Homo sapiens: one gene and its partners. The protein of the gene in region 1 interacts with the protein of each later gene in a pairwise test. Each region holds a gene or a part of one and is shown in the gene's direction. Other genes may lie near its edges. The genes, in order: TAX1BP1, UBTFL1, RAB18 and TNFAIP3.

Region 1 (7,679 bases):
GATCAGAAGACGACAGCCACAGGGAGGGAAGACGGAGCATAACACAACAGTGTATATCTCAAAGGAGCAAAGGTGTGTTACAAGCACCTAGGTAGGTAATGATTGGGAAACAAGGAGCAATGAATACATCAATAAAATCTAACAGACAGGGAAAGAGAAAATCAGCCTATTTTAGAGTGTTTGGAATCCTCTCTTTCTCTGCCTATCCAAAGCCTACCATTATTCAAATCTCATTTTTAAAGGCTCTCTTTTTAGATTGAGACCATCCTGGCCAACATAGTGAAACCTCGTCTCAACTAAAAATACAAAAAAATTATCTGGGTGTGGTGGCATGCACCTGTAGTCCCAGCTACTTGGGAGGCTGAGGCAGGAGAATCACTTGAACCCGGGAGGCAGAGGTTGCAGTGAGCCAAGATTGCGCCACTGCACTCCAGCTTGGGTGAAAGAGTGAGACTCTGCCTAAAAAAAAAAAAAAGCTCTCTTTTTAAAACAAAGGTTTACAAAGGTGTTTTTTTCTTTTTAATTAAGAATCATTTATAACAAAAGGAATCTTTAATACAAATTCTAATGTAAACCATTGTTCTAAGAAAGGAGAACAACTCATTTGCCTGGCTTTTAAAACCTGTAATGTTTCTAATAAAACATGTCTATTTGAACTTTTTCAAAAATTTTCAATCCATGTTTTGCTATCTAGTTGTCCCATCTGTGCCTTTTAAATTATATTATTCTCACTATGTAAGCCTTTTTTTCATCTTTTCAAATCTTATCAGTCTTTTGAAGTTTAGAGACCAATCTCTTTTACAAAGTCTAGCTAATTTCAAAATTAATTATTCTGTATATCTTTCTACTTTATTTCTCATAGTCCATTTCCTTCAAATTTGACAGTTATCTATACCATCCGGTAACATCTTGACCTGATTTTAAGCAGTTTCAGGGAAGAAACCATGCTTGATTCCTTGTTTTTCCCAGAGCACATAGTAAATGAACAAAATGCTCTTATTAAGAAGCGACATGACACAATGGTGAATGAATGAACTTTGGAGGAAATTATTATTTTTGGTTAACAATTTTCTTCTTGCCTGATTCCCTTGCCCAAGCTCTTAAATCCTGACTGGAAAGTCCTCCTCCTCCATCTCCTCATCGAAATCATACCTCACTTTGACAGTCTAGGCCTGCCTCCCCCATGAAAAGTGTACTGCTAACATAAGCCTGTACTTTCTCCCATCTCTGAATATCTGTCTTCCTATTCATTTACACTTTAGTTACCTACATTTTCATGGGCTCATTTCTTTTCTTCCCTTTGCTATCATAAGTTCCTCTAATGAAAGAACAGTGCCTTTTAAATATAGTCAGCATATTTTCCCAATCAAACACAGGACAACTGCCTAGAAACTACTTGACACTGTAGTTGCTCCAGAAAAATCATGGGTTACTCACTGATTTACTTTCCAATAATTCTCTCAATATTCACCACTTCGAAATCTAAAAAGCTCTGAAAATTGGCCAGGTGCGGTGGCTCATGCCTGTAATCCCAGAAGGAGAATCACTCGAACCTGGGAGGCAGAGGTTGCAGTGAGCCGAAATCTTGCCACTGCTCTCCAGCCTGGGTGACAGGGAAGAGGGCAGAGACCCCGTCTCAAAAAAAAAAAAAAAAAGAAAAAGCTCTGAAAATCAAATGTTTTCTCAACATTTGGTGGCAAAACCTGTTTGACCTGACTCATTTGTCATTAAAACTTGACCTGAACCCAAGGGCAAAGTGGCAGAACCTGACCTGAAAAACTTGACTTGAGTGAGACTATACATTTCATTTATCTTAGTGTGATATTCATAATTGTTCCGGAAAAAAAAGTTGACTGTGGGTGCTGCCCCAGATAGTGAGGAATGTCACATAAAGCACACCTCTCTAAAGTCTGAAAAATTCTGAATTCTGAAATCCATCTGGCAGAAAGATTTCACTTAAAGGAAGTGAATCCATATCTCTTCTAGCCATAGTCCACTGCCATACAAATAAGAGGCTAACTTTAAGAAATTCAATTAAAGCCGGGTGCGGTCTCTCATGCTTGTAATCCCAGCACTTTGGGAGGCTGAGGCAGGCAGATCACCTGAGGTCAGGAGTTGGAGACCAGCCTGGCCAACATGGAGAAACCCCGTCTCTACTAAAGATATAAAAATTAGCCCAGTGTGGTGGTGTGCGCCTGTAATCCTAGCCACTGGGGAGGCTGAGGCAGGAGAATTGCTTGAATCTGGGAGGTGGAGGTTGCAGTGACCCGAGATCATGCCACTGCACTACACCCTAGGTGACAGAGCGAGACTCTGTCTCAAAAAACAAACAAACAAAAAACCCAAACCCTACTCCCCCAAAACCCAGAAATTCAATTAAATACTAAGAGGGTATCTATTTATCTTGGTGGGAAAAACTTGGTCTAAAAATTAAAGGATCATTATTAAAATGAATGAAGCAAGCTAAAATTCCAGAACAAATACCTTCCTGGGGAAAATAAGGTCTAAAAATTCAAGAAATAATTAAAAATAACAAAGTAAAAATACCTGTGAAAATGTCCTTTGAGACCAGCCTGACCAACACGGCGAAACCTCCTCTCTACTAAAAATACAAAAATTAGCCAGGCGTGGTGGCTGGCTCCTGTAATCCCAGCTACTTGGGAGGCTGAGGCAGGAGAATTGCTTGAACCCGGGAGGCGGAGGTTGCAGTGAGCCGAGATCGCGCCACTGTACTGCAGCCTGAGCAACAAGAGCGAAACTCCGTCCCTCTCAGGGCAAAAAAAAAAGTCTTTCAATTATGGTTTTTATTAAGCATACTGTTTTTCTGATTTCATTAACTGAAAATTAGTGGTAATTAAAAATGTATTACATATAAATAGGAATGTGATTTAAACAAAGAGTGACATCTCTGACAAATTGTGCTTATAAAATTCACTGCTATGTTTACATTTCTTAAGGGACACAGTTATTTCTACTACCAGAAGGTTGCTACCAGTAACGCAAGTGATAACTTATGTTGATTATTCACACCGTTTTCTTCATCCATAAAATAAGGAGACTGGGACTAAATGGCCTATTAAGGTTCTTCTGAAATTCTATGATCAAGTATAATACCCAGCACAAGACCAAGTTCAAAAATGTCAATACACAGGAAACAAATCAGTCTGTAAATATTGAGAACCTATGTTATCAAAGCTAATGTCTTCTGAAATAACTGGAAGTAAAGATGAAAGTATATGAAAGATAATTTTGAATGTTCTGTATTTAGAATGTGCTTCAACATTTAATGCGATCTAATTTACATATCCTTTCTGGTGCTATTGCAAGGTTTGTCAGGGTTTTACGGCAACAGAAGACTATGATGAATTCGAATGGGACACATTTGCTTCTGTGGAGTTACGATTCAAACTGAATGTCCAATATAGGAAGGCAACATATACAACAAGCAAAAGTGATTTTAGAAATAACAGAACGCGGGAGAAAATTCACACACGGAAAATGATACGGATAACAAAAGCAGGTAACTCACAGAAATGCGGCTAGAAAAGAGGCCTCTGCTGGAGCGAGAGCAAATAGAATCAGAGGGCATTAGAACTGAAAAGCTCCTAGGAGCTTTCAGTGAACAAAACTTCATAGCCAAAAAAGCACACGACTGGGCCAGGAGTTCAGAGACAGTCTTGGTGCTCAGGGGTTTGCAGCCCTAGCCGTGTGGTCACTCCCTTGCTTCTCTGGCTATTTCCTTATCTATAAAATGAGTGGGCTAGTTTAGGCCGACTGAGACGCAGACAGGGATACGGTACTGTCCATGGACCTCTGAGCTGCCCTTTCCACATCGCTGGTGAGTTACTTAAACCTCCTGTGTGTTTCCCCCTTTCGTATGTCAAAATAATAACATAAAATCAGAATGTAAATCCAGACGCATTGTTTTGCTGCGATTAAGTTGAACGAAAATAGCAAGGACGAAGTAAGGAGAGAGCCAGCCTACCCGCGGGATGAGGCGTCCCGCGGCGGAGTGGGCTGGGGGCGTGTCGTCGCGGAGGGGAGCGGCGAACCAGGCAGGAGGCGGAAGAGACCGCCCCGTGGGCGGAAGTGACGCAAGGCCTACTGTCGGCTGGGAGGGGAGGTGTAGCCGGTCTTTGGGGGTAGGCGGTAGTGGCGGAAGAGGTTCGGCGGCTGATGGCGGATCAGGATCGGAAGCCTGCGTAACTTTCTCCCTTGATCCGGGAGTCTTTCCACTGGGTAAGGCGCCTCCCCGGTCCACCCCAGCGCCTTGTGCGGGGCGGCCTCCAGCTGCATCTCTTTTAGGGCTCGTGCTACACCCTTCAGCCCCTGTACTGTAGGGGCCTGGCCGGTCTCGGGAGAGGTCTCTGTGGTGACGAGGCTTTCCTTCCCGAAGACAAACCTTCCTTTCCAGACTGCGATTGTGACGGGGGTGTGGGCGACTCGGATCAGCTGTGGAGTTTTGGAATGGCAACGGGTGGCCGCCCCACGCGGTGGGAGGCCCGTGGGACAGGCCTTCGCGATTTGGGGGAGGCGTGTGGGACGGGGGCCCTTTGGCTGGGGACGAGTGACGCTGGCGACCCCCGAAGGAAAAGCTTCTGGTGTCCAAGGCTAAACTCTGGGGTGACTGTTTTGAGGGCAGTGTGGGTTTTACCGGCGCAGTAAGCTGAGAAAACACGTAGGTCGCGTCCGAGAAGGACGCTGGGGTTTGCCTTTGCGGAGAGAAACCCAGCTGTTTTGGTTTGAGTCGCCGGTGGCGAAGGGGGCGGAGACTCCCTGCGCCGCCTACTTTTGAGGGCCGCGGGCGGAGTTGGCGGTTCTGGCTGATGGCCTGCTTCACCTGGAATCCATTCCCCACCCCGCCCCGTTCGCAAGGTGTGGACTAGTCCCGACCGACTTGCACTCCTGGCTTAGGGAATCTGTGGCTAGAGTTTAGCGTGCGCGCGCGCGCGTACACCTTATTAGTAAAAAATTGAGCTTAGCGTGCGTCTGTGTGGGTGTGTGTACACACCTTATTGGTAAAAGTTTTGTTAGAAAACACTGGCATTTGACTTTAGACATACACAGTGTTAGATTTCCGGTTTCACACAGTGGTTATGAATTGCTATTATGTTAGGCTTTAGATGGGAAAATAAATCTTGATTTTTCAGCTGTCTGCATTCTGCTAATGTTAAAATTTCTACGAGCTGTGCACGAACAATTAATAGTTACAAGTTTGGTGCTCAATTCCTAAAGGATTTAAAGAGATCATTTGAATAGAAACTAAAAGTGGGTCGATCGTCCTCAAAGTGCTTTTCGGGTTTAGGGAAGGAGCTTAGGACAGCCTTTCTCTTTCGTTCTGTTCCTTTCAAGGGTAAACTTGAAGGATTGTTTGATGATGCCGACTTCTAATAAGGTTTTATTTATTTTTCAAACTGATTGTTCAACTTCAAAGAACATTGTAGTTTTTGTTTTCTAGTCATCACGTTCTTTTTTTTTTTTTTTCCTTGAGATGGAGTCTTGCTCTGTCTCCCAGGCTGGAGTGCAGTGGCGCGATCGCGGCTCATTGCAACCTCCGCCTCCCAGGTTCAAGCGATTCTCCTGCCTCAGCCTCCTGAGTACCTGGGATTACAGGCGCGCACCACCACACTGAAGGGGTGGGTTGCCCCTCCACACCTGTGGGTGTTTCTCGTTAGGTGGAATGAGAGACTTGGAAAAGAAAAAGACACAAAGTACAGAGAAAGAAATAAGGGGATCCGGGGAACCAGCGTTCAGCATATGGAGGATCCCGCCAGCCTCTGAGTTCCCTTAGTATTTATTGATCATTTGTGGGTGTTTCTCCGAGAGGGGGCTATGTCAGGGTCACAAGACAATAGTGGGGAGAGGGTCAGCAGACAAACACGTGAACAAAGGTCTTTGCATCATAGACAAGGTAAAGAATCAAGTGCTGTGCTTTTAGATATGCATACACATAAACATCTCAATGCTTTACAAAGCAGTATTGCTGCCCACATGTCCCACCTCCAGCCCTAAGGCGGTTTTTCCCTATCTCAGTAGATGGAACGTACAATCGGGTTTTATACTGAGACATTCCATGCCCAGGGACGGGCAGGAGACAGATGCCTTCCTCTTGTCTCAACTGCAAGAGGCATGCCTTCCTCTTATACTAATCCTCCTCAGCACAGACCCTTTACGGATGTCGGGCTGGGGGATGGTCAGGTCTTTCCCTTCCCACGAGGCCATATTTCAGACTATCACATGGGGAGAAACCTTGGACAATACCTGGCTTTCCTAGGCAGAGGTCCCTGCAGGCTTCCACAGTTTTTGTGTCCCTGGGTACTTGAGATTAGGGAGTGGTGATGACTCTTAAGGAGCATGCTGCCTTCAAGCATCTGTTTAACAGAGCACATCTTGCACAACCCTTAATCCGTTTAACCGTGAGTTTGACACAGCACATGTTTCAGAGAGCACGGGGTTGGTGGTAAGGTCATAGATTAACAGAATCTCAAGGCAGAATAATTTTTCTTAGTACAGAACAAAATGGAGTCTCCTATGTCTACTTCTTTCTACACAGACACAGTAACAGTCTGATCTCTCTTGCTTTTCCCCACACATACCCGGCAAATTTTTGTATTTTTAGTAGAGACGAGGTTTCTCCATGTTGGTCAGGCTAGTGTCGAACTCCTGACCTCTTGATCCGCCTGCCTCGGCCTTCCAAAGTGCTGGGATTACAGGTGTGAGCCACCGCACCCAGCCCATCACGTTCTTAAATTGTAGACCGCTGTTTATAGTTCTCACTGCAGCCATGTTTGTAGAATTAACCAGCAAATACCTTTTCCATAACAAAAGTAAAATTTTGGAATTCAAAGTTTCAACCTTTTTAATAATGTTAAAATAATCATGAAAGATCCTAATGATGCTCCTTGTATACTTCTTTTGGGGACTTTGTTGTATTCTTTTGGAATGGATATGTTAAATCTGGGCTTTATGCATTTCTGTCTTTTTAAAGCTTATTTTGTCCCAAATAAACCTTTAGAAGAAGATAAAAATGTCCTCTACCCTAATATGTGTGGGCCAATATCATAGCATTTTAGAAACCAACTTATAAAAATCTAAAAAGTAAATAAAAGTGGTGCGGGTGATACCTGGGCGGAATGTCTTGGCACTCAGGTGTAAAGGATTCTGGAAATAGGGATGTCTGCAAGGGTGCAAATTAATAGACTGGGGCTTTTGCTGTTGCCTCCTAGAAAAATTGCTGATTACATTTTTTGGGAGCAGAGGTCTGTTGAGAGTTGTTAGTCTTTCTTTTTTTGAGCCACAGTGTGAATAATTGGAAACTATTTGAATGCTGGACATTTTTTCCTTTCATATGTTTGTGTGTCCTATCGGATTAAAGTTTGGAGATAATTCTAAAGGTTTTTTAGCTGAAGATGTGAAAAACTTTCAGTAACTCTATCAACCATTACCTGAATTACAACACTTCTAAGGGTACAAAGCGTTCATATTCTAAAATGCAGTGTTTCTGCTACAGTGGGTCATATGTGGAGTGTTACTAATCTGTTTCATTTCTTTATTTGCTTTGGTTTTACTATTACAGAAATTTTCAAACATACACAAAGGAGAATGAACAGTAAAATGAACCGACACTTTACTAATCTTGTTTTATTACCCCCTCTAACATTAATTTTTTCCCCTGGAGT
Region 2 (6,894 bases), on another chromosome or scaffold:
ATCAATGACAATATAAACCAGCACTAGAGGGTGTTTGTAGAGGGTTATTTACAGAGATTAGAAATGGAGTTAATTTAATCAACGGTTGAAAGGTAAATCCTTTTATTGATACTTTGTACTGCAGACATCTAATCAGGGAGGGGCTTTAAGGATCCTATAATACACTGGCATCCAAAAAGCAAGTCTAATTATTTTAGAGGCATTTGGAATTTGCTAGACTGTGGAAACCTCAGAAAATAACATCTGTTGTCCAGAAAGCCCAGAGGACACAGAACTCCTGAGCCAAATGCATGAACTTTCCTGCAAGCACTGTTCAGACCAGTTATAGAATATTCAGGTGAGTATTTCCTTTAATTTTTTGTTCCTTGTTTATACAAATTGTGAACTTCTGGAGGGAAAGTCCTAGATATTATACAGTTTTATCTATAGCATGATATCTAGAATTTAATTGGAAACCTTTATTGTAGAATATGAAAAGTTCCATGTTGTCTTTAACTTCAGGTTGAATGCAGCCTTGGTCGTCTGCAAAGTTTTTAAGTGCTCAAAGGCACTTTTTTATTTTCCTAATATTCCACTGAAGTTTTTATTTCTGTCATGGTATTTTTATTTTACAAATCTATTTTGTTGTTTGAATCCTCTTTTTAAAGCCTCTTGTTATTTTTTGATATTTTTATTATATTTAATATAGTTTGATAATAAATATCATACATATGACTTTGTGAAGCTACTATATAAATGTTTATTTTATTTTATTTTATTTTTATTTTCCTTTTTTGAGATGCAGTCTCACTCTGTCACCAGGCTGGAATGCAGTGGCGTGATCTCAGCTCACTGCAACCTCTGCCTCCCAGGTTCAAGCGATTCTCCTGCCTCAGCCTCCCGAGTAGCTGGGACTACAGGGGTGCACCACCATGCCCAGCTAATTTTTGTATTTTTAGTAGAGATGGGGTTTCACCATGTCAGCCAGGATGGTCTTGATCTTTTGACCTCGTGATCTGCCTGCCTCAGCCTCCAAAGTGCTGGGATTACAGGCGTGAGGCTCTGTGCCTCGCCAAATATTTATCTTTTATGTTACAAAAATTTAAAAAACTAACAATTCATACAGCTTCATAAAGTCACAGGAGTTCATACATTTTGTTTAAGATCAAAACTTACTCTCAAATGGTTCAGGAATAAAATGTCTTAAACTTCTAAGTATTTCGTAAGTGATTGTGATAAAAAATGAAAAATAAAAATTAGATGGATTATGACACAGAAAAGGGAAAATCACACAACATTGACAAGGTCAATTTTTTTGAGACAGAGAGTCTCACTCTGTTGCCTAGTCTGAAGTGCAGTGATACAATCAAGGCTCACTGAAGTCTTGACCTCCTGTGCTCAAGCCATCCTCTCACCTCAGCCTCCAGAGTAGTTGGGACTACAGGCACTACAAGTGTGGGCCTGGCTAAATTTTTGTTTTTGTAGACATGGGGTCTCTCCATGCTGCCCAGGCTGGTCTGGAACTCCTGAACTCAAGCAATCTTCCTGCATCAGCCTCCAAAAATGTTCAAATTACAGGCATGAGCCACTGTGCCTGGCCCTATATAAATTCTTAGTTTTCCCAGTTTCTTTCCTTCTTTCTTTCTTTCTTTCTTTCTTTCTTTCTTTCTTTCTGTCTGTCTGTCTGTCTGTCTTTCTTCCTTCCTTCCTTCCTTTCTTCCTTCCTTCCTTTCTTTCTTTCTTTCTCTTTCATTCTTTTTCTTTCTTTCTTTCTTTTTCTTTCTTTCTGTCTTTCTTTCTTGTTTTTGTTTTTTGTTTTTTTTTTTGACAGGAGTCTCTCACTTTGTTGCCCAGGCTTGTCTCAAACTCCTGAGTTCAAACGACCCTCCTTTTGGATCTTAGGCTCCAAAAGTGCTGGGATTACAGGCATGAGTCACCATGCCTGGTCACAGTTTCGTCATATATGTAATGGAACAGCAAGCATAAAATGAGCTCACAGAGTTTTAAGGAGAAAAATAAGATATTAATAATAAATGTAAAACATTTGCATATTAGGTTCCTGGGGCTGCTGTAATAAACTATCACAGATAAAACAATAATTTGCTCTCTCACATTTCTGAATGCCTAACATTTAAAATCAACATGTTGATAGAGTGGTTCCCTTTGGAAATTCTGAGGGGAAATCCACCTCCTGCCTCTCTGCTAGCTTCTGGTGGGTGATGAGAATCCTTGGCTTTCATTGGCTTGTGGCAGCATAGCTCTAGTGAGCTCTGTCTCTGCCTCTGTCTCCACATGGCTGTCTATGTGTCTCAGATTTTCCTTTTATTTTTTCTCTAAGGATACCAGTCATTGGACTTAGGTCCCACCCTAAACCCAGACTAATCTTGTTGGGAGATTACCAAGGTAGTTACATCTGCAAAGATCCTATTTTCAAAAGTCCATATTCACAGGTTTCAGTGGTTAGGACTTAGACATATATTTCGGGGGGCCACTCTTTAACTGGCAATTTGAAAAAAATGTCTGGCTCAGAAAACAGCCCCATAACAACAAAAACACAACTGTATTTTTATTTCCACTGCTTTACGCACATCACCCTAACTTTTACAATTGGGAAGATGGTACTTCTTTTTTCCTAAATTCAGATTCTGAATATTTCACACCTCTTTTCTAATGTCAATTCTATGTTTTTTCCCTTTTTTCTGAGTTAGAATACATCTTGTATTTATTTATTTTTATTATTTATAATCACCACAATATATTTGGAAGTCTGACATTTTTTATTTCTGAACCATTTGAGACTATGTTCTGATCTTAAACACAAAGTATGGAATCCATTATTTTTTCTTTTTTTTAACTTTGATTTGTGAAAGTTACTTTTTTCTTAATTACTCTTTTTATTTGTTACATTACTAAGTTTGTTTTATTTTAATTTTCATAGGACATTGATGAAATGACTTTTTTATGATTTTTGAGATGAAAAATTTAATAACTTTAAATTTTACATTCTTTTAAGTTTTTCACAGTTTATTTTAATGCTTTTTTTTTGTAAATTTTAATTATAGTTATTTATATCTTCATTTATTATGGAACAACTTCCCAAAAGTCTTTTTCACATAATAAATTTAATATAATATATAAGCTATTATTTATTTTCTCTTCTGTCTCAAATATGGACTTTAATTATATTCCAATATTTCAGAACATTTTAATCTATGTTTTGAGACATTTGTGACTTACGTGATATTATGACTATTATTCTTTACACTTCTAGTGAATTTTTAATGTCATTCAAAGGCTACATCCTTCTATACTCTACTGAGAATTAAAAATAGTTCTCAAAAATATTATTCTCAGATATTCAGAACTCATTCTCAGAATTTCAACTTCCACCAGTATCTTAACTCTGTTCTCTTTCCCTTCTAATGCATATTTTCCCCCTGAAGGCCCACTGTTACACTCCTTATTCACCCTCCATTTAAGATTCGGTTTTATTTAATGTTGTATGTATTCGTACACAATTTTATTTATGTGAGGCTTAGTCTTAGAATAGAAGATCATCCTAAAAAGACTAGTGAAAGAGTTATGAGAATTTCAAGAGTGAATCCAGAAATCACGTGCCAGAAGAATTACTTCAGGCAAGACAGAATTGCTAAAAAAAAAAAAAAAAAAAGGAGTAGTCATCAGATCTGCCACATTTTCAAGTTTTGTAATGGAAAATGGCAGGTATTCTGGAGGGAGTTTCTGGAGGAAGCCAAACTTTCACTGAGGCTTAAATATGATGAACAATTAACCAAATAAAGTTGAAATGTTTTATAATTGTCATTAAATCCTTGATATTTAAAAGGAGAAGCAGTATGGTTCTTAGAAAGCATTCATTCCCGGCCCAGGAGTGGTGGCTCACGCCTGTAATCCTAGCGCTCTGGGAAGCCGAGGCAGGCGGATCACCTGAGGTTGGGAATTCGAGACCAGCCTGGCCAACATGGTGAAACCCCATCTCTACTAAAAAATACAGAAAAATTAGCCAGTCGTGGTGGCACATGCCTGTAATCTCAGCTGCTTGGGAGGCTGAGGCAGGAGAATCACTTGAAGCTGAAAAACAGAGGTTGCAGTGAGCCCAGATTGCCCCACTGCACTCTAACCCGGGCGACAAGAGTGAAACTCCGTCTCAATTAAAAAAAAAAAAAAGAAATAAAAGAAAGCAAGAAAGCATTAATTCCCATGCACTGGTCCTGGAGAATCTATAATTCAGTCTTTTATCACAGGTTCACATTCCCTTATAAAAAGGTAACAGTTGGATGCATGTCTGGAGGAGCTCTTGGGCTTGTCCGATTGTATCTTTAACTTCTCATCTGCACCTTTAGCTATGGCTATTTGGGCTGTGCTTAGAAAATGGCCATACTCAGGGCACTGTAGAATGAACAGTCCTTCCTGTTTAGGCATTTCTCCTTCCACTTTAACTTCTGACTCTGTCTTCAGGGCATTTCTGTTATATTAAGCTTCTTAAGTGATGAGTGGTCTGGTGTTTGTGTTATGCAACTCAATTTAAGATAGGTTCATGTGAGATCTGGCAGAAAGCAGGCTGGGGTGGGGTGTGGAGATACTGAATATTGTGCATGTAGCATATGAAAGGCAAACATAAATTTAATTCAGAAACAGGCAATGTTTATTTATAGTTAAGGGTCAAATGAATTATACAAGGGACATATGACAAATAGGATGTAATTTGCTTCATTAATCCAAATGAAGGAGAGTAACTTTCTTTCTCCTCAGAAATACAGAATCACACATACTGCAATACTTCCAGAAATAAATCATCCACTGAGTCTTAAAAGTAAAGAACTCTGTGTTCTTGCTCTGGTGTCTACATAACCGGGATCTTATAAGTAAGCCAAAGACATCTAAATGGCTTTGCCTAGAAGCCAAGGCCATTGGTCCAACAAAGACATCTTGAGGTTACTGGAATGCATGGAGAATAATCGCCCATCTGATGACAACAGCACGTTTAGCTCAACTCAGTCACACATGGACTGGGGAAAAGTAGCTTTTAAAAACTTTTCTGGTGAAATGTGCAGACTCAAATGGTTAGAGATTTCTTGCAACTTGAGAAAATTCGGCACTTTGAAAGAATTAGTCCTGGAAGCTAAGAAATGTGTTAAAAAGATGAACAAAAGCCAAAAATACAGGAACGGTCCAGACTTTCCAAAGAGGCCCCTTACTGCTTACAATCGCTTCTTCAAGGAGAGTTGGCCCCAGTACTCCCAAATGTACCCTGGGATGAGAAGCCAGGAACTGACCAAAATCCTGTCAAAGAAATACAGGGAACTCCCAGAGCAGATGAAACAGAAATATATTCAGGATTTCCGGAAGGAAAAGCAAGAATTTGAGGAAAAACTTGCTCGATTCAGGGAAGAACACCCTGATTTAGTCCAGAAGGCCAAGAAATCTAGTGTCTCCAAGAGGACTCAAAACAAAGTGCAAAAGAAGTTTCAGAAAAATATTGAAGAAGTGAGGTCTCTTCCAAAAACGGATCGATTTTTCAAGAAGGTAAAATTTCATGGAGAGCCTCAGAAACCCCCCATGAATGGATACCACAAGTTTCACCAAGATTCCTGGTCAAGTAAAGAGATGCAACATTTGTCAGTGAGGGAGCGCATGGTAGAGATTGGCAGACGCTGGCAGCGCATCCCGCAGAGCCAGAAGGATCATTTTAAGAGCCAGGCTGAGGAGCTGCAGAAGCAATACAAGGTGAAATTGGATCTCTGGCTCAAGACTTTGTCACCTGAAAATTATGCTGCATACAAAGAATCGACCTATGCTAAGGGTAAGAATATGGCCATGACAGGAGGCCCGGACCCCAGGTTGAAACAAGCAGATCCACAGTCCTCATCAGCAAAGGGTCTGCAAGAAGGGTTTGGGGAGGGGCAAGGGCTCCAGGCTGCAGGAACAGATTCATCACAGACTATTTGGGTAAACTGTCATGTCTCCATGGAACCAGAAGAGAACAGGAAGAAAGATAGAGAAAAGGAAGAAAGCAGTAACTCTTCAGACTGCAGCAGTGGAGAAGAAATAGAAGTTGATGTCTGAGGGCAGTGGCTCTAGTGCAGCTTCCTTGTTTTTTTTTTTTTGTTTGTTTGTTTTCTTTTCTTCCTTCCTCCCGCAAAGTAGGACAGGTTGGGAAGAAAGAAGCAACTTGGTGCAGCACTCTCCTACATCAAGATTATGAACCTGGGAGGAACTCTTTGGGAAGAATAAATATAAGTTTGAGCCAATACTGGCCTTATCCTTAAAAAAACAAACAAACAAATATCATCCCTTTCCCGAGGAACTTTATGCAATTAAGGCTTCTGAAATGAAGAGATGATTACGTTGTGGGGTACACACTGTATTAGACTGAATATTTCTGAAGCAAGAAGCTTTGCTTTACTCATTTTTGTCCTGCCAAAGGTGGTAGGGGGATACCCATAAGCCTGGGACCCAAACTTCCCTGTGGAAATGTTTTTCAGGACTCCTGCACTAAATCTAAGGTCGGGGATATTTGATGAAAGGTGGGGTAGGTGTCTTAAGAGAATTGTCCCACTCTTGATATCTCTCTCCTCCCCTCCCTGAAGTAAGGAGTTGGCCATTCCCATGCCTGGGAGTAGGGAGTAATATTTCTACATGTATATCTGACTCAGTTCTCAATTAGACTTTTCTTGCTTATTTCAAAAAAAAAATGAAAATACAAAATAAAAAGTTACTGATTTAATCTGAAAGAGCTCCTCCACAGAATCATTTGTGACACTGGGTGCAGCTTCTCTAAGTTATATCTTCATTTATTCTTGAAGCTCCAAATTTTTCCTGCTGCTTCAGGTGCAAGTGAATCTCACCTTTAGCATTCAGGATTGATACAAAGATGTAGAGAAAGACAGATATAGA
Region 3 (7,646 bases), on another chromosome or scaffold:
GTAACAGTGGACAAAACTGACAAACTTTCTGCCCACATGGAGCTTACATTCTAGTAAGGGAGACAGACTTAAATAAGTAAGTAGTGCTATGAAGGAAATAAAACATTATAAGGGGAGAGAGAATGACTGGAGTGGGGACTGCTTAGGGAAAGTTCTTAGAGGCTGTCCCATTTGAGCAGAAATCCCTCAGGTGAGGATCTAGAGCAAGCTTGTCCAACTCATGGGCTGCATGTGGCCCAGGATGGCTTTGAATGTGGCCCAACACAAATTTGTAAACTTCCTTAAAACATTATGAGATTTTGTGCTTTTTTTTAAGTTCCAGCTATCATTAGTGTTATTGTATGTTATTTGTGGCCCAAGACTATTCTTCTTCTTCTAATGTGGCCCAGGGAAACCAAAACACTGGACACCCCTAGTCTAGAGGGAGATCATCTCAGGCTGAGAGAGGAGCAAATATTTCCTGAGGTGGGAATCAGGCTACTGTGTTAAAGGAACAGGAAGAAAGCGTGTGTACTGGAGCATAGAGTGTGTTAAGGAGAAGGCAGATGGTGAGAGATGCCATTCAAATGGTAAAGAGATGGATTGTATTCCAATTGTGGTGGAAAGTAGGGAAGCAGCGGTGTGACCTGATACTCTAAAAAGATCCTGTTGTGTAGAAAATGGACTAGGGGAAACAGAAGCAAGAGACTAGTTCTTCTCTTGCAGTGGCCCAGATGAAGGAAGAAGCGGTTTGACTGTGTAGCCGTAGAGGGTGGTAGAAAATTGGCAGTTCTAGGAGATACAGTGAAGGTATAGCTGACAGGATTTGTGGGTGGATTGGGTATGGAGGATAATTAAAAAGAGCAATCAGGCGGGTGCAGTGGCTCACGCCTGTAATCTCAGCACTTTGGGAGGCCGAGGCAGGCGGATTACGAGGTCAGGAGATCGAGACCATGGCTAACACGGTGAAACCCCGTCTCTACTAAAAATACAAAAAATTCACCGGGCGTGGTGGCGGGTGCCTGTAGTCCCAGCTACTTGGGAGGCTGAGGCAGGAGAATTGCTTGAACCTGGGAGGCGGAGCTTGCAGTGAGCGAGATCACGCCACTGCACTCCAGCCTGGGCGACAGAGCGAGACTCTGTCTCAAAAAAAAAAAAAGAGAGCAATCAGAGATAACTCCATGTTTTAGGCATGAGCAGTGAGGTAGATTGTGCTGCCAATAATTAGGATGTGAAAGATTGAGATAAGAGCAGGTTTAGGGTAGGGAAGTGAGGAATCAAGAATTTCACTTTGACATAAGAATGAGACATTTTTCCGATAACCGGTGGACATGGTGGTCATTGGCATTTAGGTGGCATTCAAGGTCATGTGATTAGAGTGGTGACTTCAGGAAAGAACGTGGATAGAAAAGGGCTGAAGAAGCCTGGGCAACATAGTGAGACCTCATCTCCAAATAAAATCAGCTGTGTATAGTGGCATGTGCCTGTGATTCCAGCTGTTCTGGAGGCTGAGGTGGGAGGATCACTTGAGCCTGGGAGGCCAGGGCTGCAGTGGAGCTCCCACTGCACTCCAGCCTAGGTGACAGAGTGAGACCCTGTCTCAAAAACAAAACAAAACAAAGAAAATGGCAGAAGATTGAACCCTGGGGGATTCCAGCAATTAGAGGTCAGCAGAAAGAGGAAGTGCCAGCAAACAAGGCTGCACATGACATGTCAGTGGGCTCAGAGGATTTTCAGGCATGTTCAGTGTCCTGGAAGTCAAGGGAACAACTTGTTTAAAAGAAGAGGAAGTGATTAGCAGTATCAGATACCAAAGATGTCAAATAAAATTAGGATATTGGATTTGACAAGATAAAGGGTGTTGGTGGTCTTGGAAAAGAATGATTTCAGTGGAGTGGTGGGAATGAAAGCCTAATTAGAGTAGTTTGAAGAAAGAACGTGAGATAAGAAGGTAGAAACAGCTTATGTGGATAACTCTTTAGAAGAGGTTTCAAAGAGAGTGGAGAAATGGGTGGCTACAAGAAGGGCATGTGGCCTAGAGAGCAAGTTTGTTTTTTAATAGGATGGAAAATAATTCGGCAGACTTTTAGGCTGATTGGTATGATCCAGTAGAGAGAGCGTTTGGTCCTTCGGTGAATGAGAAGGGATGGGACTCCAGGAACAAAAGAAGGCGATGGCTTGGATAGCAGCAGGGACAGTTTATCCATTCTCACAGGAGGGAAAGCAGAGCATGAGGATACATATGCAGGTAGCTTGGTAAATTTATTAGTGGGATGATCAGGCAGTTCTTGCCAGATTGCTTCTGATTTTCTCAGCATAATGCAGCTAGATTATTAGCTGCGATAGAGTTTTGAGAGGAAGGAATAAAGTACTCATCTCAGACGGTGAGAAAGATCATCACTAAGGAAACGCAGGGTTGGAAGCAGTGCTGAGTGTCCAGTTGAGTTTCATGAGCAAACATTTGCTGTGGGACCAGTTTTCATGGTGGTTTGTCATTTTGTCCAGCTGCCTGGAGCTGCTTGGTTGAAGGCACAGAATAATCAGATTAATTGTTTAACTTGTATGAATTTCTTTATTTTAAAATAGGAATAATATCTGCCTTGGGAGCAAGTTGTAAGAGTTAACTGAAAGCTTAAGGAAAAAACTTTCGCTCGCTATTTAAGTAGGGCTTTACAAGTTACAATTCTATCACAGTTTTAAGATTATAAACCAGTGTTTTTTTGGTATAAAATTATATACTAGTATTCTTATGGATAGAATTTAATTAGCTCAATTTTGAGATTTGGAAATTCACTAGTTATTGACCTTTGGGGAAAAATTGCTGATTTGGATCTTAATATATTGTAGGCTGATATTTATGCCCTGATAGTTTCCCAGAAAAACATGAGAATATGGCCAGAAAGGAATATACTATGAATGACCTTTTTCCTTGAATTTCAGAGGCAAGTGCAAAAACCTGTGATGGTGTACAATGTGCCTTTGAAGAACTTGTTGAAAAGATCATTCAGACCCCTGGACTGTGGGAAAGTGAGAACCAGAATAAAGGAGTCAAACTGTCACACAGGGAAGAAGGCCAAGGAGGAGGAGCCTGTGGTGGTTATTGCTCTGTGTTATAAACTCTGGGAAATTCCATCTCTTGCATATTTGATCAGATAGTGACATCTTTCTGTATATAAACTCTTTAACTGCTATTTTAGGGACCTTGCAGTTTGCACATAATTGTTTTATATCATAGCAGTAAATATTTGCAAGAAATCCCACTCATCGACCCCGGGTAAAATGTTATGGTAAGCATGCACAGTTTGCAGTCTACAGTTTTTTTATGTAGCACAAAATAGGTGTACCTTTATAAGTACATTCAATTTTATGATTTACATTTATCATGTAATTTTTAAAAAAATCCATCTATCTAGGATATGTTGATACAAAGTCTGCTTTTGCTATTCTTTTTGCTTAAATACTCCTATCATTTTCTGAATTACTTGGTATTTAGAACTCCTAGCACCACGGGGAAGAATAGAGGTATCATCAAACGTGGCAAATTTTCTTTCAGGAATAATAAAGAGCATGATTCCACAGCTTTTCTGGGATGTTTGAGATTCTTTTTTAGTACTAAGCAAAATTCTCATCACAGAATGTAGCCCAGGCCAATTTATAACTAAATCTCTATTTGTTCGGATGATGCTTCTAAAACAGCATTGATAGGTTAAAGAAGCTTGGTATTTTTAATTTACTTCAATGATTAGCTCAGTTGCTTAACTGGAGTTTTAATCCTGTGATATGTACATTGGATTCATGACTGTGCAGCATTTTTAGTTATGTGGTGTTTGGCAGAATGACAATAAGGTTTTCCCCCATTTTGGTTTCAGGAGGACATGAATAGTGTGTTTATTGTAACTCCTCATACACTTTTAAAACCAACATCTTTTTTCATAAATGTTGGTAGTGTTTGTCCAGGTACCTTAACTGTAGCTTGTGTAATGTTGATGAATATCTGTATCTTACGGCTTCCATAATGGCTAGTTGATATTCAAAAACCTATTTCTGTGTTTTGAGGGGTGGGGAAAAAAAACACTAAGTGATAATTTGAAAAAGGCATATTGCTTCCAGATTCTGATGTGTGAGGGAAAATACTGTCACAATGAAAATCTTGACAATTTACTTAACAAGTAACCAGTAGTTCATCAAAACCAACTTGTACAGACTAATAAATCTTTTTCACAGTATTCAGTTTTCTCACCTCTTGCTATTGTATATTGTAGATTTTTTTCATTCATGTGTTATTTAATTTACACTGATCTCTGCTATTTTAACCCCCCAAATAAGTTATTTGTCCTTTAAGGTTGGTTACTATAATACCCCTCAGTAAGATTCCAGTATTAATTTCTGGGCAGTTTGTTCTCTGTATACAATTGCAAATGATAAGCATTTTTGTGAGTGACCACCTTTGCAATATGTTTGTTAATTTACTTCATGTTGGGTTCTTTCTGAAATGTACATCTTTACATATAAAAACCTCACATTCTACTTGATTTACACTTCCTAGTCTACATTACATGTGGTTGAAGGTTTTATACATTCTATATGCTTTTACTAAATATACAAGATTTACTACTAGAAATTTGGAGAAAGAACACTAACACATGTACTTGTGATTTGTTCATGTTATATTAAAACTTGAGATTTGTGTATTTATGTAGAGTCTGTATTGACAAGACTGTTGTTTTTTGCTCCTTGAGCTATATAATAATCTGTGTATTGGATTGTTGTCTTGATTTGGTCTAAATTTGAATATATATGAGTTACTTGAATATAACAAAAATGAATTTTGTTTGATAGATTTATATTGTAACCTTTTTCTAGTTCTTGAATAAATATAGCCTGCTTTCCCTAGATGCATTTGTGTAGGAAGTATATACATTTCCCTATTACTCTCATCAGCTGAAGAATATGTACTATTGTGTTACTCAAATTATGTGGCTTTCATTTTGTTGTTTTGTTGCAAGCTTAGTGTTTTGTAGTGGAGGTTTTGTAAATGAAACAGTTGTAATATCTAAGGTCAGGCACCTAGTAACAGGGTTTTGTTAATTCTTTTCAGAATCATTGAAGCAGTCTTAAAGGGTCTTTTGCAGATGGTACAAATTAGAACAATTAGAATATAGTATTTTGAGTTCTAGTAGTACTGAGATTGACCCAAACAAATAAAAAACTATTCAATTTCTGAGTAATAGTTAATATTTATTGAAAGCTTCCTTGGTGCCAGATGCCTTTCTAAGTGCTGAATTATCTCATTAAACCTCACAGCAACCTTAAGAGATTAGTACTCCTATTATGCCCATTTTAAAGGTGAGGACAACACAATGTAGGTATGTTAGGTAACCCCCAAAGATCACATAGCTACTCAGTCACTGAGCTGGATTCCAGTCATGGCATTTTTACTTCTGAGCCCATACTCTTCACCATCGCTCATTTTACAATGGGTAGTTAGTTACCAGCTTTTTGTAACACAACCAAGTTAAGGCAGTTCCACTATTTCTTTATCACTCTTTTGTTATATGTAATAGAAGTATTTCACACTTTTGGGTTATAGAGTAAATCCCATGATGTAAACCTACCTCATAAGTCATGTGACATAAAAGTTAAGGTAGTGGAGTAGGTGGTCTTATTTCTTTCACCTGCTCAGAGTGGACTGAAAATCCTGACTTAGAAAAGGTACAAAGTTAGGGGACTTATGGTACCTTCACTTTTTATGTGAGAATAGAAATTATGGAAACAGTAATTTGCTCAAAACTGAAATCTGGGGTGATGTTTTCATTTCATGTATTTGATTGCCATCCATAAACTCATACTTGGTGTTGACATTCTAGCTGAGTGTTGTGGAAATAGACTTGATTTTGATTCATCGTAGCTTGCATGGTCAAGAGACATGATTCTCTACTAAGGGTGGGGCTAGCACCATAGCTCATAAAAGAATCCTTCTTACACCAGTACTTGTTCTGCCTGTGAGTTGGCACAGACTTACCTAATAACCATAGTGTCTTTAAGTACAACTTAATACATATTTTTTCTGTGTATTTTTTTCAAATGAACTCAACAATTCTTCAGGTATTATAGATCAGAGATCCTCTCCATATTCAAGCATTATGCTTCTCTTTCTTGGGGGTACATTTCACTAGTAATACTTAGGAAGTTATTTTGTCTTTCCTGTATTTCCCTAGTTAAGTATAGGGGTAAAAACGTTATTCAGCTTTCAGAAGACATTGTTCTGACTCCGACCCTGCCGTGTATACTCAACTATATAGACTTCACCCTGGGTTTTGCCTAAACTGTTGAAAGACGAGAATAAATAGACATAGACAGGCTAGCTAAGTCAAGACTAGGGGCTAAGGAATATAGAATCACCCAGGTCTTTTTTTTTTTTTTTAATTTTTCTCTCCTCAGTTGGGAACATCTATCATGCTGGAGGACTACTGTGATGGGGCTTTACATTTTACTGTTTTGTTGCTAGCTTATTGTTTCATACTTGGGAATCAGTCATGTTTCTGATTGTGGTATAAAGTTTGCTTAAGTGCCCCTTAGTTAAAGCTGTTCAATGAATGTAAGCACACACACACCTACACACATATTTTGAATAGTCGTGTGTTCATGCCTGTTCTCAGTCTTGTCCCCTTTACCGTTTCTCATGCAGGTTATTTCTTGCTTTTTTTTTTTTTCCTCTTTTTTAACCGGAGAAGCAACAAATTACGTAGTTTTTTTTGTGTTTCTTTGATTACTAGTGAGCTTGAGTACTTTTAATATTTTATTGGATATGTTTGTGACTGACTTTAATTTCTTGTTTGTGTGTGCTGTGGCTGCCCGATCCAGCACCTACTTCCTTCTCCCACCATACCACCCCCACCCCCACCCCTGCAAACAATTGGCATGTGGTTTGGGTGGCATTGTCACACCCTCGGCTTTCTAGATTAACCCAGTTACCTTTTAGCAGTGCCCCACTTCCCCAGTAGCAATGGTTCAGGGGTAGGCACCTGACCCAGACCAGACTACTGAGATAAAGATGTTTGCCTAGGCTTTTTCAGGAGCAATTGAAGACATCTTGTTGGAGATAGTGTGCTGGGAGGAGTCACATTCTGAACTTGCTGCAGCTCGTTTTTCTAATATAAAGGAACCAGCCTGAGGCAGTACCAGGGTGAGAGGGAGTCTATTGGAGCCCTTGGGAACTTCTGGATCAAATTGGACCTGAATTGAGATCTATTTCTCAGCTTTCACTTATGTGAGCCAATAAATTCCTTTTTTGTTGAAGGCAATTTGACTTGGATTTTCTTTTTTCTTGCAACCAAATATAAGTAGTGTGAGAATGTGTGTGTTTTTCTTATTTACAGAGGTGCTCGTACGTCAAGTTAGTTACATCAGTAATAGATTGTTTGCATAAGGAAGAAAAAAAGTAAACCACTTGAAAAGCCACTACTCTTAAATAACTATTAACATTTTAGTGAGAATACTTTTACGTATTTCTTTATGGATATATACATAGAAAACTGTAAATGAGTTAACTTCATACATATATGATGTGGTTTCTTTTCATTTCCTCTGTCACCCGAGCATGCCCTCTCGTTCCTCTCCTCCCTGAGGTATCTGTTGCATCCTAGCCATATGCTCTTTCTGCATTT
Region 4 (7,528 bases), on another chromosome or scaffold:
TCTCTGAAAGAATGGAAGCCTTTCAAATTCTTTTTTTATGGAGATGGCTGGCAGCCAAAGGAGCAGGATTATAGAGACCCCAAACTAGACTGAAGGGATTGAGGGACAAATGAGAAAGGGGAATGTCAAGGCAAATTTTCACAATGGCTTGCACTATTCCAAGTAACAGGAACTAATTTATCTCAGAAACACCGGGCTTACTGCTAAAACCAACACTGCTTTCTAGCTCGTTCCTAATAACACCCATTTCTGGGCTTTCTAACATCCTATTTGGTCATTAATAGCAGCCTTCACAGAAACATAAATGAAACTAAGAATTGAATATTTATATTTATGATGTAAAATAAAATTACTTTCCCAAGTGTTTCAGCCAAGTGTTGACAGGAAATAAAACAGAATTCACAGGGATAGTGGATTTTCTGACAAGTTTGAGATGTCAGCATCGCACGCTTTCAGGCAAAGTGCAACAGAAGGAACTGTACTTGTCATTACACCAACTGCCTCCTTCCCAGTGGAGGGTCTTTGATCCTGGTACTATGACTCACTGGGTCACTAAGGACTTCAGTTGTCCCTCCACCATGGTGGGTCTTGGGTTTCTCCATTCAGTCCAGATAACACATGTAAAGGATCTGAGGTCCCTAGATAAGAAGCAACATTCAGTAGAATTTGGCATTCATAGGATGATGAAATTTATGACATCATTATCCCAGTTCTCACGGTTATAATCCACAGAAAGCTTCTCTTTATTCTCAGAACTAGCCCTTGTAGTGGCCTTGAATGTGCAAACGTTACCCTTTAGTAATGTTTGAGGCAGAATTTGAAAATCTGAAACATGATTCAAAGCTACCCTACAATAACTAAGCTGCCATAGTTACCTAAGGCTGCTTCCCAATATGTTTTCTATGAATCTGCCTTTCCAATAGAGCACAGTGCAGGGAAAAGGGGAGGGGGCAATTGTACAAAAGACACAAAAGGTCCAGTTTTAGTTTGGCCCATGACTGCCATGCCCTGGAATTCTGTACAGTCTCAGAAAGAGAGTGTCACTGATTATTAAAAATACATAATTTCTTCTTTTTTATTTTTTTAATTTTTAGAAACATGGGTCTTACTATGTTGCCCAGGATAGACTCAAACTCCCGGACTCAAAGGACCCTTCCCTCTCAGCCTCCCGAGTAGCTGGGACTGCAGACGCATGCTAATTAACAATCAACAACCAGGGGCCAGGCGCGGTGGCTCACGCCTGTAATCCCAGCACTTTGGGAGGCCAAGGCGGGTGGATCACGAGGTCAGGAGAATCGAGACCATCCTGGCTAACACGGCGAAACCCCGTCTCTACTAAAAATACAAAAAATTAGCCGGGCGTAGTGGCGGGCGCCTGTAGTCCCAGCTACTCGGGAGGCTGAGGCAGGAGAATGGCGTGAACCCGGGAGGCGGAGCTTGCAGTGAGCTGAGATCGCGCCACTGCACTCCAGCCTGGGCGACAGAGCAAGACGACGTCTCAAAAAAAAAAAAAAGAATCAACAACCAATCAACTGTTGCTGATTCTTGATTAAGAAAGGCTCATGAAATATGTTTGAGCTCAGCAGGGTCTCCTCTCACTTGTCACACGTGGTGCTCTCTTTCATCAGGTTCTTCCTGCTCCCCCCATCTGGGCAAGCACATCTTTTTTACTGCATGGTACAGGGATACAGGCTGCAAGCACAGTCTCACGGGAACCGTTTAATTCCAAGAGGTCATGTGTGCTCATTTTACATAGTTCATGACCCATAAACCCCAGCATTGGTGTCAAAATGGCACGTAACTTAGGAACTCTCCAAAAATATTTCACATAATCAGAATTCCTTTTTCATCTAATAAGGAGACATATTTTTTCTCCTAAGTGTCTACTAAATGTTAATAAATATTCTCTTCTTTAAAGAGTTCTGTCCATCTTGACAAGGCCTATAGCTCAAATTAAATCTCCTTCAAGGCTTTTCAGCATTCTATATCTCTTTGGTTTCAACTTATTCAACAAATCTCCCCAAATTGTATTTCTCCTTTTTTTCATAAGAAGGCATTCCATCTATACTCTCTCCTTCTCTTCTTTTCTTTCCTTCTGATTCACCAAGAAAATTGTCATTGGTCTTGTCCATGTGTTACATAATAGAAGGGGAAAAGGCAAGGGTACAGCCCAACACAGCGCTGATTTAGAAGGTGGAAAGGACAGTAAAGACCGCCTGGTGGTGGGAGTGGCAATTCACAAGCCCAGCAGTAGAATCATGGAAAGTGGAGTTCGAACATAATCCAGGGCTATAGACCACTCCTGCATCTGACTGCTATTACCTTGTCACAAATCCTGGCAGGCAAGATGACAAAGCAGTTACATCAGGACAGTTGGCAGTGGCAGGTATGAACGTGGCCCCTCAGGCTTGTCACTCCTCTTTACTGCACTCCCAGTTCATGACACCAGACAGCAAGACATGAGCCAGATAGGGGCAGTGGAAGCTGCAGGAGGATTGAAGTCATGGAGCCAGAGATGAGAGGAAACAGGCCAACTCTGTTTACAAAGGAGCACCAGCAGGAGAGTGGTGTGAGGATTAACATTCCATGCAGGGTCTTTCAGATACATGATCTTCTTCTGCCAGCTCAACTGAAACCCAGGAGGTTTCCTGAAGGTGAAACCAAGACCCTTCTACCTCTGAAGCCGCATTCTGTCTAAGGTCCGTGTTTGGCTGTTTTGAGAGGCTGGGAGACAGGACACCAAAAGAGTACCTGTCTCACAGGATCTTTCCTGAGAGGAATGGTCTAGTAAGACTGGTCATTATGGGCTTTGGAGTAACACAGGCTTAATGCCACTGGCGACTCTGCCCCTTTTGGTTGTGGAAACTGGGCAAATGCCTCAAGCTTCTTAACCTTCATATAAAAAGCATATATAAGCATATAGCAAGTACTTGATAAATGTCATTTTAGACCCTGTCATTTCTGCTAGCCCTGGACTCCAGCAAGGTCCATTTACAATGGATAGCTGACTATCCATTGTTTGAATGTTGATAGCACATTTGTGAACAAGAAGAGAGGACAAATAACAAGAGGTTTGGAACTGGAAGAAATTCCAGCCATCGGTTTTAAAAGACGAGGACCAGTCTTCAGAGAGGCCACTAGTGACACTCTGCTCCAAACTTCTTTTTGCCAAAAAAGTGCCACCCTCCATCCAGCCCCCACCCCCATCTCTGCAAGTCCTTACTGGCGAGAGGAGGATACTTTTCTAATTAAAAACCTGTGATATATGGCCTGACAAGTATTCTTAAATGTAATTAAGGGGACCATAGTACAGAATATTTCCATCCGGTTCTAGTTTAGCCAATCTAGTAAATGATCCAAAGGGTCCCGTGCTTAGAGGGCAGTAAGACAGTAAAAACGCCCTAAGACTCCTCCCTGCACAGCACCTGCACCCCCACTGCCCAGGGGGCTGCATCCATCTCCACATGACTCACCCTCCCTGTGCAACGCATGGGGGTAGGGAGGGAAGCGCCAGTATTATCAGCCATCAGCACCCTGGGGTGAACTGATTATCAGGACAACTAAAAACACACCTAATAAAGCCTTGGAGACACATGGCAAGCACCGTGATGGACTAGAAGCGATTTCTAAGCTGAAATGCTGCTTTGAATGCAATGTCAGCTGGATGCTTGGTGAGCAGAAATAGACAAGGGGAAATGGAGCAAGCGCGGCATAGGGGTGAGTGTTGTTCTGATTCCTAAGTTTACCTAAGACTGGGGCCACGGGGTCGGGTGTCCCCTGGGACCTACGTCTCATGCAGCCTGGGGTCCAGAGCTGGCAGGAACAATGGAGATGGGGACCAAAGGCTGTCACCGCTGCTTTTTCTCGAAATGCCCGCCCGGGTCCTGTCTGGGGCTCCCGCCTACGCGCTCATCACGTGCACAGCCCAAACTTTTCAGAGCCGGCCCGAGGCCTGCGGGCCCGGGCGCCAGGGTGGTTTTTAGGGTTTTCTTTCTTTCTTATTTCCCTTCTTCTTCTCCACAGTTGATGATTTTCTGCAGAAAAACAACTGCGAAAAAGAACCTATTTCATTTCCAGTTCCCATCACCGCGATTTCCACATGGATGTGACGTGACCCCAGCTTCCGAAATGCCCAGGTGACTCACGCGGGGACACCCCGGGGCGGGGCGAGGGAGTTTCTCCGGGCGCCTGCAGGGACCGGGCGGGGCGGGGCAGCGGGGCGGGGCAGGGAAAGGGGGCGGGGCGGGGCCCGCAGGCCCGGTCGGGCGGAGGCCGCGCGCGCCCCTCGCCCCCTGCGCCCTCTGGCGGCCGGCTGGACGCACTTCGCAGCCCGACCCAGAGAGTCACGTGACTTTGGAAAGTCCCGTGGAAATCCCCGGGCCTACAACCCGCATACAACTGAAACGGGGCAAAGCAGACTGCGCAGTCTGCAGTCTTCGTGGCGGGCCAAGCGAGCTTGGAGCCCGCGGGGGCGGAGCGGTGAGAGCGGCCGCCAAGAGAGATCACACCCCCAGCCGACCCTGCCAGCGAGCGAGCCCGACCCCAGGCGTCCATGGAGCGTCGCCTCCGCCCGGTCCCTGCCCCGACCCCCGCCTGCGGCGCGCTCCTGCCTTGACCAGGACTTGGGACTTTGCGAAAGGATCGCGGGGCCCGGAGAGGTAACCGCCGCGCCTCCCGGAGAGGTAACCGCCGCGCCTCCCGGAGAGGTAACCGCCGCGCCTCCCCGTGCCGTCTGCCTCGGGCTCACCGCAGTCAAGGGCTGCGGGTGCATGTTGGGCAGCGACCCCCGGGCTGGCACCGTCTACCTGGCGTTGGTTTTGCAGCGCTCCTGGACTGGGAGTTTGTTGGACGTTTCTGTCTGGGTTTTGAAGTGCTGGGAGTTGAGGTCACTGCTGCAGAGGTTGGAGTGACAGCCCTGGATACCTCCAGCCAGCTGTTCCTTTCAGATAATGCACGGAACTTAAGCTGCAGCTGACTGGTGAAGAGGCGCCCCTCGGGCCCTCCGATCGGGTGGTCGTTGGCGCTTTGCTCCTTTCGTGTCTTTTTTGGAGCCAAGCGTTGCATGCTCATGGCCACGTAGACCTTGCAGAAGCGCTGCGGCTTTTTCCCAAATTGTGCAGGACCAGCCCGACGGGGCGTAGGGTACCGCAGTGGCCGCCAGCCCGGCGGAGGTGGGGGGCTTCAGTCCCAGAGACAGCTTCCCAGACGCTCACGGGTCCTTGCAGGGGGCTGGGGTCCTGGCGCGGGGTTCAGCTTTTCCAGTAGCAGCAGTGTAAGAGAAGTATGCATGTAGACGTGGGTCGCTGGCCCCTGCTCCAGCCCCTACCCCACGGTTAGACTGTCTTTGTCAGCTGGAGTCGTCCCACATCCTGCCACCTGGCCTCTCAGAAAAGCAGTGGCATTAAGTAAGGAAGGAGCTTAACTCTTTTTGAGCCCGCTTTGTTTTCGGTTCTCCTCGCCTCAGATCTTCTTGCCTTGGAAAGCCAGTCTGGTCAAGTGTCTCAGGGTAGCATTTTGGCAGAACCATTGTTAATTAAAGGGACTTCTGGACCGCAACCTTAATGTACCAGATTATTGAGCAGCCAATGAATGCTTCATTCTCATTGTTTAAGGTGCTGCTTTGATTTTTTTTTCAATTCTTTGTACTATTTTTGATTTTTTGGAGAGGCACATCCCCAAATTTGGATGAGGTATTTGTTGATAAATAATTCATCAATTTCCACAATGCAGACAAAAATGTCTGCCCAGAGTGGAAAAATAAAACAAGGGGGAGAAGAGTTTGAGTAACGGAGAAGTTCTGTGGAATCCTAGTGACAAAAGTTGAGAAACTACCTTTAAATAAGACAGTGAGGTAACAAATGTTAAAAAAAAAAAAGTTAAGGGTAATATTGCATTGTTTGCCACTTATAACGTATCTGAAACATTTGTTCTTTAATCTTAAGCGTAGAGTGGTCCAAGACCTGGAAATCTGGGCAGTGGGTTTTGATTTCTAAGGAGGCAGTTTTACAGGCTGTGCAAGGCTAACCCTACCAATGAGATCACACTGGCGTATCCGATATTGACATTTGCATGTCTTGCCTATGGTTTACAGCTCTCACTATTTTAGATCTTTGGTGAAAAATCTTTAGATTCAGAAGAGAAAAATAAAAGAGTCAGGCAAGCAAAAAGAGATAACACCTCATTTGTTTAAAATCTTCCTACTGCCCATCTCTTTCCATCTGATTGTGGCAGGCACTGTAGCCACAGGTTTGGTGTTGTGGGATTGCAAGGGGCAGGTATTGAAAGACCTGGCTCCTAGGCAAAACTTTGCCCCTGAATGGCTGTGGGATCTGAGCAGTACCTGTAACTCCATTGCCTTAGCTGCAGACTAAGGTGGTAGTGTAATTTCAGGGAAGGGAATAAGGTCATCTTTGACTTTTAGTCCCATCATCAAGCATGGTGATTGGCCTTCAGTAGGTGGTCAGGTAGTGCTTGTTGGGTGGATGGGTGGATGGATGGATAGATGGATGGATGGATGGATGGATGGATGGATGGATGGATGGACGGACGGACGGACGGACGGATAGATGATATTGTGAAAGAGACTTTTGCTGTGCCACAAAGGAAAGGTATATGTGTTATTTTTATCCTGCTATGATTTTGCCCAATTCCACCTGTAGAGGACGTCTGACATCAAAAGAGAGCACCATCTGATCCAGAGAATGACTCCCACTATGCCTTTCCCAGCAATCAGATTAAGAATCCCAATCTAAAACTATCACCAGAAAACTCCTCAGGAGAAACCATGGGTCATCTAGTCCAACCTCTCTCCTTTGAGTGGGCCACAAGAATTATCTCAACACCTTATCAATGGTGTTGAGAGTCTAGACCCACACAGAAGTAGCTACCCTAAAATCTAGGTTTCTTCTCCTCCCTCTTCCATAGGTTTAACATTTTTATTAACTGGAAAGTTGCCCTGGCAAATAAGATGTTGCAGGAATGGAATTAACAATCACTGTGAAATTTCCTAGGGAATGTCTTTGTGCTCTGAAAACTTCTTCATCTTCTTGGAAATTAGGAAGTGTGGCCAGACACCCTACTAAGGGCTAGTAAATCACAGCTGGCTTTTTACAGTGTTCCACACTGGAGAGATCCTACATCATGTTAATTTGCATCATCCTGCGCTGTTGGCATGGGTTGTAGATGCTGGTCTTTGCCACCTTTCCTCCTTCATTTGCCAGAGTGGCCTCCTGGTGGAAACTTCTTTCCTTGTCTACTTCTAGATTTTCATTCCTTCTACTAGTTGATTATGCTTAAAGATTTCAGGGTGAAAAGCCAGGCAGACTTGCCTCTGTGTTGGTACCTGGAGGGTGATGATAAAATTTCATTGGCAGTTGAGTTAAAATGATTGAGCTCCAATATCTGTTCTTAGAAGTATAGAATTTATTGTTCTATTATTATTTTGCGGTTTTTCATTTTTTGTTTTCGTAGAGACCTAGGTCTCACCGTGTTGCCCAGGCTAGTCTCAAACTCCTGAGCTTAAGTGATC

Evidence for each region.
Region 2: the proteins of TAX1BP1 (region 1) and UBTFL1 interact in binary tests that used the Homo sapiens proteins (3 or more experiments, as listed by UniProt).
Region 3: the proteins of TAX1BP1 (region 1) and RAB18 interact in binary tests that used the Homo sapiens proteins (3 or more experiments, as listed by UniProt).
Region 4: the proteins of TAX1BP1 (region 1) and TNFAIP3 interact in binary tests that used the Homo sapiens proteins (3 or more experiments, as listed by UniProt).

What each region holds. Positions count from the first base shown.
Region 1 is NC_000007.14:27,736,031-27,743,709, forward strand, and holds the start of TAX1BP1 (tax1-binding protein 1), read left to right. Parts: upstream 1-4,131; 5' UTR 4,132-4,239; exon of another isoform or gene 4,240-4,645; intron 4,646-7,679.
Region 2 is NC_000011.10:90,081,069-90,087,962, forward strand, and holds UBTFL1 (upstream-binding factor 1-like protein 1), read left to right. Parts: upstream 1-4,881; coding exon 4,882-6,063; downstream 6,064-6,894. UniProt on the Homo sapiens protein: Essential for proliferation of the inner cell mass and trophectodermal cells in peri-implantation development.
Region 3 is NC_000010.11:27,534,957-27,542,602, forward strand, and holds the end of RAB18 (ras-related protein Rab-18), read left to right. Parts: intron 1-2,919; coding exon 2,920-3,095; coding exon of another isoform or gene 3,096-3,135; 3' UTR 3,136-7,283; downstream 7,284-7,646. UniProt on the Homo sapiens protein: The small GTPases Rab are key regulators of intracellular membrane trafficking, from the formation of transport vesicles to their fusion with membranes.
Region 4 is NC_000006.12:137,862,837-137,870,364, forward strand, and holds the start of TNFAIP3 (tumor necrosis factor alpha-induced protein 3), read left to right. Parts: upstream 1-4,422; 5' UTR 4,423-4,706; exon of another isoform or gene 4,707-5,405; intron 5,406-7,528. UniProt on the Homo sapiens protein: Ubiquitin-editing enzyme that contains both ubiquitin ligase and deubiquitinase activities.